Homo sapiens: one gene and its partners. The protein of the gene in region 1 interacts with the protein of each later gene in a biochemical or structural test. Each region holds a gene or a part of one and is shown in the gene's direction. Other genes may lie near its edges.

What was found. The genes of interacting proteins can lie anywhere in the genome.
Region 2: the proteins of SNTB2 (region 1) and SLC15A5 interact in a test that uses a peptide from one of them, tested with the Homo sapiens proteins (one large-scale study listed by IntAct).
Region 3: the proteins of SNTB2 (region 1) and RASSF6 interact in a test that uses a peptide from one of them, tested with the Homo sapiens proteins (one large-scale study listed by IntAct).
Region 4: the proteins of SNTB2 (region 1) and ABCC4 interact in a test that uses a peptide from one of them, tested with the Homo sapiens proteins (one large-scale study listed by IntAct).

Annotation. Positions count from the first base shown.
Region 1 is NC_000016.10:69,304,879-69,310,067, forward strand, and holds the end of SNTB2 (beta-2-syntrophin), read left to right. Parts: 3' UTR 1-4,174; downstream 4,175-5,189. UniProt on the Homo sapiens protein: Adapter protein that binds to and probably organizes the subcellular localization of a variety of membrane proteins. May link various receptors to the actin cytoskeleton and the dystrophin glycoprotein complex.
Region 2 is NC_000012.12:16,239,686-16,243,185, reverse strand, and holds part of SLC15A5 (solute carrier family 15 member 5), read left to right. Parts: intron 1-3,318; coding exon 3,319-3,500. UniProt on the Homo sapiens protein: Proton oligopeptide cotransporter.
Region 3 is NC_000004.12:73,617,637-73,621,657, reverse strand, and holds the start of RASSF6 (ras association domain-containing protein 6), read left to right. Parts: upstream 1-1,221; 5' UTR 1,222-1,370; intron 1,371-4,021.
Region 4 is NC_000013.11:95,070,952-95,074,451, reverse strand, and holds part of ABCC4 (ATP-binding cassette sub-family C member 4), read left to right. Parts: intron 1-127; coding exon 128-238; intron 239-1,147; coding exon 1,148-1,248; intron 1,249-2,598; coding exon 2,599-2,790; intron 2,791-3,500. UniProt on the Homo sapiens protein: ATP-dependent transporter of the ATP-binding cassette (ABC) family that actively extrudes physiological compounds and xenobiotics from cells.

The DNA of each region.
Region 1 (5,189 bases):
CTGGTCTTGAACTCTTGGCACTCAAGCAGTCCTTCTGCCTCAGCCTCCCAAAGTGCTGGGATTACAGATGTGAGCCACTGCACCTGGCCCCAGAAATTATGCTTAAAAAAAAAATTAAGCTGTGTGGAATCTGGACAAGGCTATGTTTCTCCTAGAAACAGGTTTTGCTGTAAATGGTTTTGATGGGCGAAAGTGTGAGAAAAGGTTATAATAGATTCTTTTTTTTAATTTTGTGAGAAATTCCAGGTCTTCTTGCTTAACTTATATGCATGTGGATATATTTGTTTTCAAAGCCATGGAAGAATCTCTGTTCATATATTTTAATGCAAATTACCTTGTATGCTGCTATGCAAATTCTATTAAAAGGCCTACCTGCTTAAGAATTAAACATTTTTGAAACTTTCAGGGAAGACCTGTAGACTCAAGCACTTTCTCTGCTTTTTTGTATCTTATCTTGGACACTTATGCTGAATTATGTTCTTATTATTTTCACTGGTTATAAGCTATTCCTTGTACATAATATTTAAACTATCCAAATATCCAGCATACATTTCCATGTGGCTGCCATCGGCTGTTGATGCCATGAATGAAATGGCTGGTTAGAAAGCCAAAGGTCTTCTTTTTTCAATTCCTAATGAATAAGTAAAATGCCAGATCTCTTTGGTCTCAAAGCAAATTGCTCTGATCAGATCAAATATCTATGTAATGAAAAGAGACTTACTTAAATTTGGGATTCTGCTTAAACTTTAAGTTGAATTTGACTGTAGTCATTCATTCTTTTTATATATCTCTGTCAGGTATGACATTAATTACCAGGTGGTATTATACTCTACTTTGAGTTTGGACATCACTTTCAGTTAAATTTCTGTTGTTATTGTGGCTTTTTTTTTTTTTTAACCCCACTGAAGATGGAAGTAGAGCAGTCTGCCATCTCCTGCTGTTCTTTCTCTGTGCCCCCTAATTGCTTGGTAATCTAAAATTATTCTGACTTTCCACATACTGTCTTTAAAAACCAATTGTAGCAATCTGCCCGCCTCCACCCTTTAAGCTAAATCTTTCACTGTGCTGGATACATAGACACTCGATAAATGTGTGATGATAGTTCTAAAATAATTATGCTATATATCAGGGTTCTGTATTTTTGAGCAATATCATTATTCCTATGCTGTGATGTTAAATGGAATTTATTTTACACTAGTAATAGACTGCTTAAGTGGCTGATTTGAAACCTTTCTCTAAAAAAACAAAAACATCTGGCAGATGAGTGACACAAATTCATTCTCTTAAAGGATAGAATTTCAAGTTAAGGATAAGGCACAATAAATAGGCACATAGAGGACATCTGTTTTTGTTTTTGGTTTTGGTTTTGTTTTTTTTTGTCTCTCTGACTAGCTAAACTGCCAACTAGAAGAATGGTTGTTATGTAGTAACTCAGAAGAATCTTTTAATAAGTTTCTTCTTTTGTTTCAAAACAAACTTGAGCTTCATTTCTTGCCACCTCTATTCTTTCTTCCCACGTTGGGTGACTGAACTGATGCTTATTCTAGTTTTAGAAGAGGATCCACATTTAATGTAAGGCATAAATATGCCTTTTGCAAATTATTGCTTGTTCTCCAGTGAACATTTGATCATATTCAACAGAAATCCACCATATAAACCATAATCCTTGAATTGCCCCTTTTAAAATAGATTGGTTAAAACCAAAAACCTATAAGAGAGAAATGATATTTCATTGTATTGTAGGTTTGGGAATCCTGGTTAGATTTATAATTTCTGGCCGGGTGCGGTGGCTCATGCCTGTATTCCCAGTACTTTGGGAGCCCAAGGTGGGTGGATCACCTGAGGTAAGGAGTTTGAGACCAGCCTGGCCAACATGGTGAAACCCCATCTCTACTAAAAATACAAAAAGTTAGCTGGGCATGGTGGTGCGCGCCTGTGGTCCCAGCTACTCGGGAGGCTGAGGTGGGAGAATCCCTTGAACCCAGGAGGCAGAAGTTGCAGTGAGCTGAGATCATGCCATTGCACTCCAGCCTGGGCAACAGAGCGAGACTTCATCTCCAAAAAAAGAAAAAGAAGAAAAAGATTTATAATTTCTGAGTCCCCTAAGTCCCTTTCTCAGTTTGCAATAATCTTACGTCCATGCTATTGACACTAATTTTGAAACTGGAAAGCTAATTAATGACATATTCATGTGTTCTTTCATCTAATAAACATTTATTAATGTATAGTTCTACACCAGGCATTCTGAAGGGTCCAAAAGAAAGTTCCTGCCCTCTAGTAGCACATAATCCGTTATTTCTCAGCACACCATGCCATCTGTTTATCATTCAGCAGTTAAGTAATTCATCACTTCATATTTTTACCAAAGTATATTTACAAGTCTGTTTATCTGGATCTGGCAAACTGGAAAATGTTTGAAGGGATACTCAGGCTTTGATCCATGCCAACATGAAAGGACTCCAAGCACATTTAAGTAGGCTGGTCTTTTCATCATGCATGATTTTTTTTTTAGTGCAAATTTAGACTTTAGTTTGGGAAAGAGAACAGTATACAGTATCCTTTGTAAGATAAATCACAACAACAAAAATTAAGTTTTATTGCACAAAGTAGATAAATGAGAAAGTCTTTCTTAAAAAATGCTTCTTTAACTGTAACAGCAAAACTAAATGCATATTTTATCAACCCCTTATTTCTAATTGCTGTATTCATTTCCACCCTTAAACTATTTAAGCATTTCATCTGCTGAAAGTCCTTATATACATGGTAGACGGAATATTTCTCCATTAATGATAGATCAAAATGAAGATATTTAAAAATTAACAAAATCAGGCCAAGGCAGGAGGATCACTTTAGCCCAGGAGGTCCAGACCAGCCTGGGCAACACAGCGGGACCCCGACTCCATTTAAAAAATTAAAAAAAAAAAAAAAACTTTTAACATTTAAAAAATAAAAATTAACAAAATTTCACTTATTCCAGGACACGCTGGCATTTGGACTCAATGAAAAGGGCACCTAAAGAAAATAAGGCTGACTGAATGTTTTCCATAATTTTCACACAATAACAGTCCCTTTCTATCCAGCTTGCCTTCCATTTATCTCTAGGGTTAGCTTTTCAGGCAACATCCTTGGTCATTGCCCAGAAAGTACCTGAGCTATCAGTGATTGGAATGGCACAGGAAACCGAATCACATGGGTGCCCTCCCCTTGGTTTTCAAGTATCTTGGAGTTGTGCACAAAAATTAGGTCATGCCTTCAGTGTCTTGTTCTTTAAACCTACCCTTTGACAATCAGGTGCTAATGATTGTATACTATTAAAACCAGCACATAAGTATTGTAAATGTGTGTTCCTCCTAGGTTGGAAGAAATGTCTTTCCTTCTATCTGGGTCCTGTTAAAGCGGGTGTCAGTTGTGTCTTTTCACCTCGATTTGTGAATTAATAGAATTGGGGGGAGAGGAAATGATGATGTCAATTAAGTTTCAGGTTTGGCATGATCATCATTCTCGATGATATTCTCACTTTGTCGCAAATCTGCCCTTATCGTAAGAACAAGTTTCAGAATTTTCCCTCCACTATACGACTCCAGTATTATGTTTACAATCCATTGGATGAGTGCAGCATTATAAGACCTTGGTGCCCAGAAAAATCTGTCCTTTTTGGTACCAAACCTGAGGTCTTTTGGAAGATAATGTAGAAAACCACTACCTATTGAAGGCCTGTTTTGGCTAATCTGTGCAAACTCTGATGATACCTGCTTATGTGGATTCTTTTCCACACTGCTTTCATTTTTAAGTATAAAGACTTAGAAAACTAGAATAATGCTTTTACAAATAATTAAAAGTATGTGATGTTCTGGGTTTTTTCCTTCTTTTTAGAACCCTGTATTTAAACAAGCCTTCTTTTTAAGTCTTGTTTGAAATTTAAGTCTCAGATCTTCTGGATACCAAATCAAAAACCCAACGCGTAAAACAGGGCAGTATTTGTGTTCCTAATTTTAAAAAGCTTTATGTATACTCTATAAATATAGATGCATAAACAACACTTCCCCTTGAGTAGCACATCAACATACAGCATTGTACATTACAATGAAAATGTGTAACTTAAGGGTATTATATATATAAATACATATATACCTTTGTAACCTTTATACTGTAAATAAAAAAGTTGCTTTAGTCACGTGGGTTGTTTTTTTTTTCCAATTTTTAAAATGCTGAAATAGTTTTGAACCTACAGGAAAGTTACAAAAACAATACAAATCTTCTTCACCCAAACCTTCCAGTTGTTAACATTTTGCCATATTTATTCCATTACCTTGTCTTTCTCTAATATGATTCTCTAGCACCCTTAAATTCTCTAGTGAGGACCTCCAAAACATAAGGACAGTCCTTGCATTGCCACCATAAAGTCCTCCTAATCAAGAAATCAACATTGGCACACCACCACTCATTCCATAGACCCCATTCAAATGATGCCAGCCATCCCGGCCATGTCCTGTTTTCCTCTCTGGCCTTGGATCCTGGCCAATACCACTTTCTTGCCTTTTGTCGTCGTGTCTCAGTTCTTCAGTCTGGAATGTTCCTCGGCCTTACTCTAATTCGCATGTGCCTGAGTCTCAGCACAAGGCTTTGATTGTTCAGCACAGCTCTCCAGCTGGCTCTATTCGGTGTTGCCTCACAACCAGGCTGTGTCACACACTCTTGGCAGAGATGCCACGATGCCATGCTCTCTTCAGGGTATCATGTGGAGAGACACACGAGGGCCACGCATCCCACCACCAGGGGTGTTCCCTTCGGTCGCGTAGTCAAGCTAATGTCCTCATTGTTTTCTCCTTTGTATTTATTTATTTATTTAGAGATGGAGTTCCGCTCTTGTCGCCCAGGCTGGAGTGCAATGGCGTGGTCTTGGCTCACTGCAACCTCCGCCTCCCAGGTTCAAGCGATTCTCCTGTCTCAGCCTCCCAAGTAGCTGGGATTACAGGTGCCCACCACCATGGCCGGCGAATATTTTGTATTTTTAGTAGAGACAGGGTTTCACCATGTTGGCCAGGCTGGTCTTGAACTCCTGACCTCAAGTGATCCACCTGCCTCGGCCTCCCAAAGTACTGGGATTATAGGCGTGAGCCACCGCGCCCGGCCTCTCCTTTGTATTTAATTAGCATTTTGTGAAGAGAGATTAAGGTGTGCCAATTTTT
Region 2 (3,500 bases), on another chromosome or scaffold:
TTTAAATTTTAGCGTCCATAAATGAAGTTTTATCAGAACATAGCCATGCTCTTTGTTTTGTCGTATCTATGTCTGCTTATGCACAAAAATAGCAGAGTTGAGTAATTGCCACGGAACCCATATGTGGACATATTTACTATCTGGCCCTTTACAGAAAATTTCTTGACCTCTAGACTAAATAATGCATGAAAGCTAGTCTGATTTAGAAGATTCAAACTCCCTCTTGACTCTATAATAGCAGTAGGCACAAAAACAGAATACAGCAGAAATATTACCCATATATGTAAGCATTAATATAATAAAACATCTTAGATTGGAGGAACCGATAAACAGTACAAAATTACTACATGGCCCATAGCTAACCTCAAAAGCTTATGTGCAAGTAGCACAGAATACCAGTTCCTTACCTTCATAATGCAATGACACCTGACATTTCTTTCCACTAAGTTGGACCCTTCTTTGCACACTGTCATATATTTTTTAATTGAACATAAATTACAATAAATTTTGATAAACTAATTTTTAAGCATATCACCAAATCTAGATGTGCAACTTATTGCAAAGCACAGAAACTAATAGTTACTGATCACCTATTAAGTGCCATAGCTTCTAAAAGATGGCTTCACAGTACGTAATTTAATCCCCACAGCAAGGCTACATGGCTATTACTCTCCTAAATCTGAGGCTCAGAAACTAAGTTGCAACTTGTTCCCAGTCACCTTGCTAATGTGTGGCAGAGCAACATCCCACCTCAGGATTAGTGTCAAGCGCCATGCTTTATTATCCTCAATATCACTCTTGCATTGGGTTAAAAGTCCCTGATACAAACTACATAGATTCCAAAATTATATACAGTAATGTTATGCTAGAAACTTCAAAGAAAATGCTTAGATCATACTTCACCAGGGAGGCAGAGGAATTTCCAATAGGATAGGCTGGGTTTAGTTTTTTGCCCCCAGATGAAATAATCACCAGTACAAAGGCAATCAAAGTACCAAGAATAAAACATCATAGAATTTCATACATATTTTAAATTTAGTAGCCATTATTGACCTTCAGTTGCAAGACATACATCTAAAATATGTTGATATTACGGCTGATGAGGTTGCCATTTGACATTACTGGCCAGTCAAAGGTGAGAATGAATCTCTATTGACAGCAATTATTTCTGAATACTCAAAGGCTTGGATGAAATAAAAGTATTTAAAATTTTACAGGGCGATGATTTCAGAACTTCAGGCAGAGGCAGAAATGATTTCAAGCTTTCAAGACACTGCAGCCTTTTCTAAGATTAGGCAATATATTAATATTGCTTCACTAAAGATTAATAGTACATTTGCCACATTATTAAGTTAACATATTTCTGTGTCTGTGATTCATGCCGATAATAACTTTATTCCTATTAACAATAATTCTCATTTGAAATCAGTAACAGAAACTTCCAAGTTGTGCTGGGAGCCTTTCAGTCTTAGAGTTGTTCCGCTGCCAGCACTTTTTGTTAAAACACATCATTCATTTTCCTCCGATGGGGGATCCATGCTTAATAATTTTATTGAAGTAGGGCAGAACTAACTAATGTTCCTTTAACTCTTGCCATCTGTACTCAGCCAAAACAATCCTTGTTTACTATGCTAAGGGTCAAATTAAAGATTGGGAGATAAATGATCACCAGGACACGTTGTCTACAGAAAGAATCTCAGTGAAAATGTGGTCTTGTCCTGTGTTTGCGCAGTTAACATGGCAATAGGCTCATTTTACAATTAGTGGACTTGGTAACAGCTGTACTGACACCATAATACTGATTCTCCATATATACCCTCTTGAATTGTACAATTGAGTCTAGAGAAGGGGTTAGCAAATGTTTCAAATGAGAAGTTATCATCTGGATATTTGAGCGAGGCTGCTCTCCCAGGATGGTGGTGAAGCAGGGATCCTAATGCAGCTCTTGTACCATACGAGTTTGGAGGATCCATTCCTCAAGAAGACTTGGTTGACTTTCTGTCTATGACACTCAATAGCTTTGTGTACCACTGGGAATTAAAGAAATACTATGCGCTACTAAAGATCATGATGGGCCGGGCACGGTGGCTCACACCTGTAATCCCAGCACTTTGAGAGGCTGAGGCAGGCAGATCACGAGGTCAGGAGATCGAGACCATCCTGACTAACACGGTGAAACCTCATCTCTACTAAAAATACAGAAAAATTAGCCAGGCGTGGTGGCGGGCGCCTGTAGTCTCAGCTACTCGGAAGGCTGAGGCAGGAGAATGGCGTGAACCTGGGAGGTGGAGCTTGCCGTGAGCCGAGATCACACCACTGCACTCCAGCCTGGGTGACAGAGCGAGACTCTGTCTCAAAAAAAATAAAAATAAAAAAGATCATGATGAAGCTGATGAAGCTGTAACAAAGCTCATGTACTAGAAAAGTGAAGAGACACCTCTTTCATGTGACATCATCCCTTGGTTCTGATATCACACTCGGTTGCCAAGAGGATTGGAATACACTAAGAGGCTCCAAATCAGTGTTAGAGTTTTAGTTAGCATTGGGGTTATTTTTAAAATGAAGAAATTCTAACAATACATTGAGGATTTGGGGTGGAGCACAGGGTTTTTTTTTAAAAAAATTGTATCTTTCACTTTATCATGCAAACCTTTTTCATGTTGTTTCCTTTATGGAATTCTAGCATCACGTAATTAGTTTGAAGGGAGGGCAAAGACACAAGGTTTTTTTTTCCTCCCCCTGTTACTTAGTTCACATTGGAAACAAAGCCTCTCTAAATAGCCCCCTCAAAGACAGCCTACAGCAATTAACACGTGTCCACATTGGGCCCCTCTTCTTAGGAAAAAGTCGTTTCTATATTGCCACCAAACTAGATGCTTTTTAAAGAATCTATTCTAGCCTCATTTTTTTCATCAGGGTAAAAACAGACGTCTTTAGTATTTTTTACTGGTTTTATATTAGTGTTCATGAAGAAAAGTCATTTTGCTTATCTACAGAATTTAAGTTATTTGGCTTTTTATGTGTCATCTTAAGCACAAAATTGGGGCCATCATTACTTTTCATAGAAAAATTAAGAGAGACTAAATGATGATAGAGTATTTCATGAGTAATGAGTACTATTGTCAATAGACTAGACAGAGCTCCTACCACCACAGATGAAGACCCTTTATCAGCTCATAACTGGGAACTTGAAAAACTAGGCAACATCCAGCTCATCCATCACAGAGTACGTGCAAGAGGGTAGGCCTCTGGTGGACGATGCTTTCTTCAAAGTTAAACCCCTGTCTTAATGCATGGATGTTTCCCTCTCGAATACAGATTCCTTCAGGATATTATCTGCAAACTATGAATTCCAACCTGAATTTGGATGGATTTCTTCTGCCGATTGCAGTAATGAATGCCATCAGCAGCCTACCATTACTAATTCTGGCTCCTTTTCTGGAGTATTTCAGCACCTGCCTGTTTCCCTCTAAGAGAGTTGGATCATTTCTGTCAACATG
Region 3 (4,021 bases), on another chromosome or scaffold:
TCTTGAACTCCTGGGCTCAAGTGATCCACCAGCCTTGGTCTCCCAAAGTGCTGAGATTACAGGCGTGAGTCACTGCACCTGGCCTGCCTCACCTTTTGAACATATAGGATCTTACTTAAAGTGCTATGACAAACATGCAACCTGAACATCTAGAGTCATTCTGTTTGTCTGGCGTTTGAACACGAAAGATACTAGAAATTAACTCTGCCTGCTGAACTTTTTGCAGGAATCAGATTGAATTTCTTTTGAGGGCTCTCAGGTTTACACTTGTAAAATAACCTATTATGTTTAAAAATTATGAATAGTTGCTTTACATAGGAAACCAGTAAAATAACAATGATCCTTAAAAATCTGTGTGTGTGTGTGTGTGTGTGTGTGTGTAAATGTACTTCATATTTCCACAGCATCTGTCATTTAACAGTTTCTAAGCCTTTTTGGTGTCCTTTTGAAATTGGAGATATTGGATAAAACAAAGCCCCCAAATCCAATTCAGTAGATAATGACTAAATTATTATTTATCTCCTCTGTTTTGTTTCATTATGTTCATTTTCAAACTTTGATGTCTACCAGTTTCTTCTGTGGAGCTTATAAAAAATATAAATACCCGAAGTGTATGCATGGCCTACTAAATCAGAGTCTCACAGTTGATGGTACCTGGGTTTAGCAGAATACATAGGTGGTCCTGGTGCACCCTGAAGCGCGAAACGCTGCTCTGGGTGAAAAAAAGTGCTAGCAGGGAAATGTGTTAGCAAAATAACAAGGAAAAGAAAGTTAACAAATCTCAAATTGGAAAAGAAAAATCTTAAAAAGAAAGACGTGAATAATGGCGTTCAGTCTTGGTTGGTGTCATTTCTCACAGGCCAATTACCTACAGTCTGGGTGGACTAGAGAATAGAGATTAACATCAGTCAAATCCCGTGGTTAAAGCGTTAACTAGAATGTCCATTCATTTCTCAAGAAGTGTGGCAGAGAGCAAAGGAGTGTACCTATCAGCTGTTCCTAAGAAAGTAAACACTCCCAACATGCACTGAGGCACAGGGAGTGGCTCAGGTTTCTTGACACTTCCCTGCTGTGGCGAAAAGGAGAAATAATTAACAGCTCCTGGGGCTCCAGGATCGCTGATCGCGTCGGGGGCACTGCAAGCGCCCAGCTGAGCCATGCTCTGGGAGGAGACAGGCGCCGCCCCTGCGCCCGCGCGGGCCTCGGACCTCCCCTACAGGTGAGTGACTCGCGGAGTCCCAGCCCGGCAGAGACAGGGCACTGGTTTCCCTCTACCAGAGTTCCTGACCCAGCCGAGAACAAACCGCGAAGCAAGTTCAGCCGAACAACGATGGTGAAAAGGGTCCTCCTGCTCACAGTGTGAATAACAGGTAAAAAATGGGGATGGGGAAAAAAACTTTCTAATCCACTCCCTGGGGTCATGTTGAGGGCAAGTTATTAGAAAGCAGAATCCATAGGCAACAAAGTTAAGTGTGTGTGTGTCATAGCAGCCTGAATCGCACACATGCCTTTTCCTTTTGATTTTCTCAGAATATGCTTTCCTAACCAAGGTAAGCTTGTAGGGTGGGAGGGAGAGAGGGGAAAGAAGGGAGGGAAAGGGTGCAGAGAAGGGCTTGGAGGTAAATGTGACCATAGGACCCCTCCTCCCTTTAGTTCAATGAGCCCTTCACCTGTAATTGTGCCTGGCAAAAATCGTGCCTTACAAAGATACTAGACTTCTGGATGGCATACTCCTTCCTCTGAGTATCCTTATGGTTAGAATATTGTGTTGAATCATCGCACTGGAAAGAACTTAATTGAGGGTTCAGCTCAACTTTTATTTGTTTCTGCAAAGTGACAGAAAGCATGCCCCCCACCAAAAAAAAAATGAATTTTCAATATAAGCGCTCACCAAACAATGAAATAATAAACATAAATAATTAAATGGGAGTGCATGAGTTAAGGATATGAATTCTGAAGCAGAAGAGTGGTAGGTTCAAAGCTCGGCTTTGCCACTTATTAGTTTGCCCCCTCTCAAGTTTCTTAACCTAAGCCCCAAACGTTTGTCTGTAAAACAAGCATCATCAAAGGATCTGCCACATAAGGCTTTCTTTGATGGGAACTGAACAGTCAGCAAGTGTTCTGTAAGTGATACCTACTGTTAGCATTAAGAATAAGCTGCTCTGCCAAAGGGGCCGTTATCAGGGAGGGCAAGCTGAACTAGGGAGACCAGACAGTGTGTATTAGGATGCTGGAATTGAACTGGTTCCCGGAGACTGGATCCAGGACAGGCAAGCAGGTGACAGGTGTGCTAGGATCATCTCTCTGGGTAGCAACGAAATGACCTGGCTTCTTTCCATTTTTCAGATAGAGTATGTGGTGGCAAATTCAGACATATTTGCTACTCAATCAGTTTTCTTTTGAAAAATTCACATTTACATTAATCTGTTATTCCTAAAAAGAAAATAGAATTTTAGAGTAAGAGAGTTACACACAATCTCATATTGTGGAATTCATGCCATTTGGGTTTTATAAAGGAGACTGCTTTTGAATAACTTTCATCAATTTAGACCATATAATCCATGTCTTTATATTTCAGCACATATTGAATTGTTTGTATTGAAGTGCTGTTTTTAATTTGTGTTGATGGACAAGAGACATGAAGGAATAATACTTGTATTTTGTCAGTCTCTACCTCTTAAGCTTAAATTACAGGAAAGTGGCTTTATTTTATGAAGTTTCACTTAAAGGGCACTTTTGTCAATGTTGTTAGTTATTAATGTTGCTAATTTTCTTGAGGGGACCAACTTAGTGTCTATGACTAGTAATTTCCATTGACTTCATTTTTATCTTGTTATTTTATTAAATAAAGCAGTCAAAGAGTTTGCAGTATACTCTAACTTAATATCATTGGTGTTTTAATGGATTCTTTTTTCAAATTGCAGAGTTGAAATTCTTCAGTGTGCTTACAATTAGATATTGACTGGAGAATTGTGGATAGAATTCTAAACCCAACCTAACTGAAGTTTACTATGTTATTTCCCTCTGGGGTCTGATTGTGTTTAGTACAGTTTAGCTAAAAACTTATAAAGGAATCAAATTGAATTAGAATAAGTTAGGGTTCCAATATTCATTAAAGATTTTTCAAAGAGGAAATATGCTTTTATGCTGAATTTCCATATTGTTATACATCCTTAAACAAAGTTATTTGCCTTTATATTTATTGATAGACATATGTCTAAATAAAGAATAGTAGCCCCAATTGAGATAAATTTATTTAACCATATTTGAAATTGATTTGAGATTAATCTACTTAACCGTAACTGGGTGGAAGTCTTTCTAGTTAAAATCTGTTTAGATAGATAGATAGATAGATAACAACTTTATATCTATACATTAGAATATTGTGTTGAATTTACATTTATTCTACTATTTCTCACGTGTATAACATTTTATTATAAACTATTAAATGTTGTGGTCAATCAGAGAGAGAGAGAAAGAGAGAAAAGAGTGACACAGAGAGACCCAGCAATGATTACGAAAAAATTAACTTTTCCAGTTATATTCAAAATAGTGTAACATGTATGTAACAAGTCTTTTAAGCATGTAATTAAAAGTTCTATACCTGATTCTTGTTTTAATTTCCTAAAATAAGAAGGATCCTTTACTTTTAACTGAGATAGAAACCCAATGCTGACAGTCCATTTGCTTATATAGATTCATTGATTGCAATGTAGGTGGGGAATTCACGGTTACTAGAGTTACATGGGCTTCATATAAAAGCTTAGATTTTTAAAATATTCAAGTATAGGCCATTTGAAAACAAAACCTCTGAGAAAGGAATTCTGAATATTTTCCTTTCACATTACAGTTAGAGAGTTATTCTGTTGCAAAAATTAATTTGTATGTTTAAAATGATAAATTATAGTGATTTCATCACTTTCATAACATAATCTCAACAACCAAACTTAACTAATACCACTGCTTTCAGGAGTAGAACATGAAGTGTCTCCTATTTAAGTAATAAGGATGTTAACTTAAA
Region 4 (3,500 bases), on another chromosome or scaffold:
AAGGTTCCTTGGGTGTGCAACTTTGGTGCCCTACTCCACGTAAAAATCTTCTGTAGCTCAACTGAGCAAAACACACTCGCACATTCATCTACTTATTCATCATGCTTATTACCGTTCTCAAATTCAGAGGCTTGGTTCTTGTTTTTGACAACGTCCCGCTGGTTTGCCGTCCGTCTGGATGCCATCTGTGCCATGTTTGTCATCATCGTTGCCTTTGGGTCCCTGATTCTGGCAAAAAGTAAGTACAGATGTGAATAACTATGTATGGTATGATTACAATTTATAGCTGTGTTTACATTTATTAAACTCTTGCCACCTTGTCTACTACTACATACTGTTTGGTCCTAATGAAGTGTATTAAATCATTTACGATGTGTCAGGTTGGGTAGGATTCAGCAGTGTGACTCATTTAAGGAGTCATTTGGGTCTTGATGGGTTTATCTTTCTTTGAATGGGTTGAGATATGCGCAGTTGAGATTCTGAACATTCCTGTTAGTGTCTGGTAGTTGTGAAGAGAAAACCAATTTATTCTGAAGCATTTTGTCCAACTTAGGGTGTTAGCCTTCCAACTACTTGAATCTATTGTTTGTAGTTGCCTGGTGCATGAGGTTGAGAAAAATTCTCAGCAGGAGAGTATTATCTTCAATGCCACATGGGTACCAGACAAGCAGGGCATGAGTTCACCACCCCAGTAACAACAGTGCATTACAATACTTAATAATGGAACAAGGAGAGTAGTATTTTAGTCTCAAAAGCATTGGCACTTACAACCTATTGCTTTGTTTTTAGTGGTTTCCAGCTGTGGTTGCATTGCACGTAGAAAGTGGAATAATGTAATGAGCTTTGAAACCATAATAATGAATGTCTGAATAATGACATTATTTCTTGCGTTTGTAATACTGTTAATTAAATCTATGTCGATCCTGTTGGAATTCATAAAATCATCTAAAAATTTTTCTAAATATACAGTGTTGTTTTCCCCATTGTATCTTGATCTCAAGCAACAAATGGTAAAAGTATAGCTATTAATGTCATTAAATGTGAATTGTTTCAACATTATGAAGGGTTCCTCTTGGTAAGTGGCAGAAGGAGCCAGGCTTAGGTTTGAAGTGAGACTGACTTTATTCCCTTCTTCCTCCTTACGTAGCTCTGGATGCCGGGCAGGTTGGTTTGGCACTGTCCTATGCCCTCACGCTCATGGGGATGTTTCAGTGGTGTGTTCGACAAAGTGCTGAAGTTGAGAATATGGTAATATTTACCTTCACGTTCTTTGCCTTTTCAATCTCCTTGCCATTAAATGGTATAAAAGCCATTCTTATGTGAAATATTAAAACTGTTATTTTTACATCTTTGGTAACAGATTTTTTTTAAGATCCTTCCTCCATCTGTTTAAAGTTAATGTAAAATAAAATATATACATCTTTTTCTGAGTCTTATGGTTGCTCTGTCAGCAGGTTTTATATTCATCACAAGCTTTTTCAGATGTAATAAATGTCTCTGTAGGAGGGAGGTTCTGAAATTCTAGAGAGGATATAAGCTAATTTCTTAGAAGCCTGTTTAATTTTGTTTCTTAACGGGTAATTCCTCATTCCTGTTAAAAGAAGACTTCAGTATTTTGAGGTTGTTTACATTTAATTAATAGGTCTCCTCCTCTCCCAGTTCTAGCGTTTACTCTCTTATGTGAAGAACAGAAGGGAGGAAGGCCTTAACTTTGCTGGTGTGCCTTCTTGGTACAGAAAGCCTCCTCTTGGAATGTGCTAGTCAAAGGGTATTAGTTTATGGTGGTATAGGAGGCTTTAATCAATGTTTTAAATATTTGCACCTTCCCCTAAAGAGAGAAAAGCAATAAACATAAAAATCTTTTCATTCTTCTCATAGAGCAAAAGTTGAGTAATTATTACAGTGAGGTTTCACGATCATCCAGTTTAACTGACCTATATCAGGTGATCCTTCTATAGCAAAAGATTCTTTTTTGGGGGGTAGGGGTGAGGGGACAGAGTTTTGCTCTTGTACCCCAGGCTGGAGTGCAATAGTGCGATCTTGGCTCACTGCAACCTCCGCCTCCCGGGTTCAAGCGATTTTCCTGCCTCAGCCTCCTGAGTAGCTGGGATTACAGGCATGCAGCACCACGCCCAGCTAATTTTTGTATTTTTAGTAGAAATGGGGTTTCACCATGTTGACCAGGCTGGTGTCAAACACCTGACCTTAGGTGATCCACCTGCCCCGGCCTCCCAAAGTGCTGGGATTATAGGCATGAGCCACCGCGCCCAGCCAGCAAAAGATTCTTGATTGGTGGCTCTAAGTATTCCTTTCCTTTACAAAATTTTCTTGCCTTTAATACAGGTGTGAGAAGTGGATAAATAAAATCTAAGCATTCATTTCTCTCATTCTTTTAACCTAATGTTGAAGGAAGTGGTTGTAAGTGAAGGTGTTACACAATGATGAACCAAATTTGTAAGTCATCAACATCCTCGTCTGTCTCCTGCTTCTCTCCTTAACCAACTATGTATGAAAGAAGAACATTTCATTGACAGTCTCTTAACATCCATAAATGACACCCTCCATTCCTAACCCCTCGGGATGTCATATTTCTTTCAGATGATCTCAGTAGAAAGGGTCATTGAATACACAGACCTTGAAAAAGAAGCACCTTGGGAATATCAGAAACGCCCACCACCAGCCTGGCCCCATGAAGGAGTGATAATCTTTGACAATGTGAACTTCATGTACAGTCCAGGTGGGCCTCTGGTACTGAAGCATCTGACAGCACTCATTAAATCACAAGAAAAGGTTTGTTTAAAGCATCTTGCCTCTTCTCAATTTCAGAAGATTTAGTGCTATGTCTGCTTGTTGTCTTCCTTGTGGATGTGTGAAGGGGATCAGTGATACGTAGGTTAACCTGTCTTGGAAACTAACCATGGAATGTGGATACCAACATTCTTCCTGCTGTGAACTGCTTTACTGTGGTTGGTGGGCCCCGGGCCTCAGGGCTGGAGCTTAACGTGACCCAGGATACTCTGTTTGATACCTAATTACTCATGGATTTTTCCAGGAAGTCAACTCTGGCTTTGTGTCACCAACACTCCTATGTCTAATTCTGTCGATTTTTACTTTGTTGCATTTCTCAAGTCCTTCTCTTCCCCTCCACTGCTGCAGCTTCTGTTCCAGCCTTTCTCCTCCTCCATCCTTTGGTCCTGTATTAGTCTGTTTTCACACTGCTGATAAAGGTATACCCAAGACTAGGCAATTTACAGAAGAAAGAGAGGTTTAATGGACTTAAAGTTCCACATGGATGGGGAGGCCTCAGACTCATGATGGCAGGCAAGGAGGAGCAAGTCACATCTTATATGGATGGCAGCAGGCAAAGAGAGTTTGTGCAGGGAAACTTCCCCTTATAAAACCATCAGATCTCATGATACTTATTCACTATCATGAGAACACCACAGGAAAGACCTGCCCCCATGATTCAATTACCTCCCACCGGGTCCCTCCCACAACAT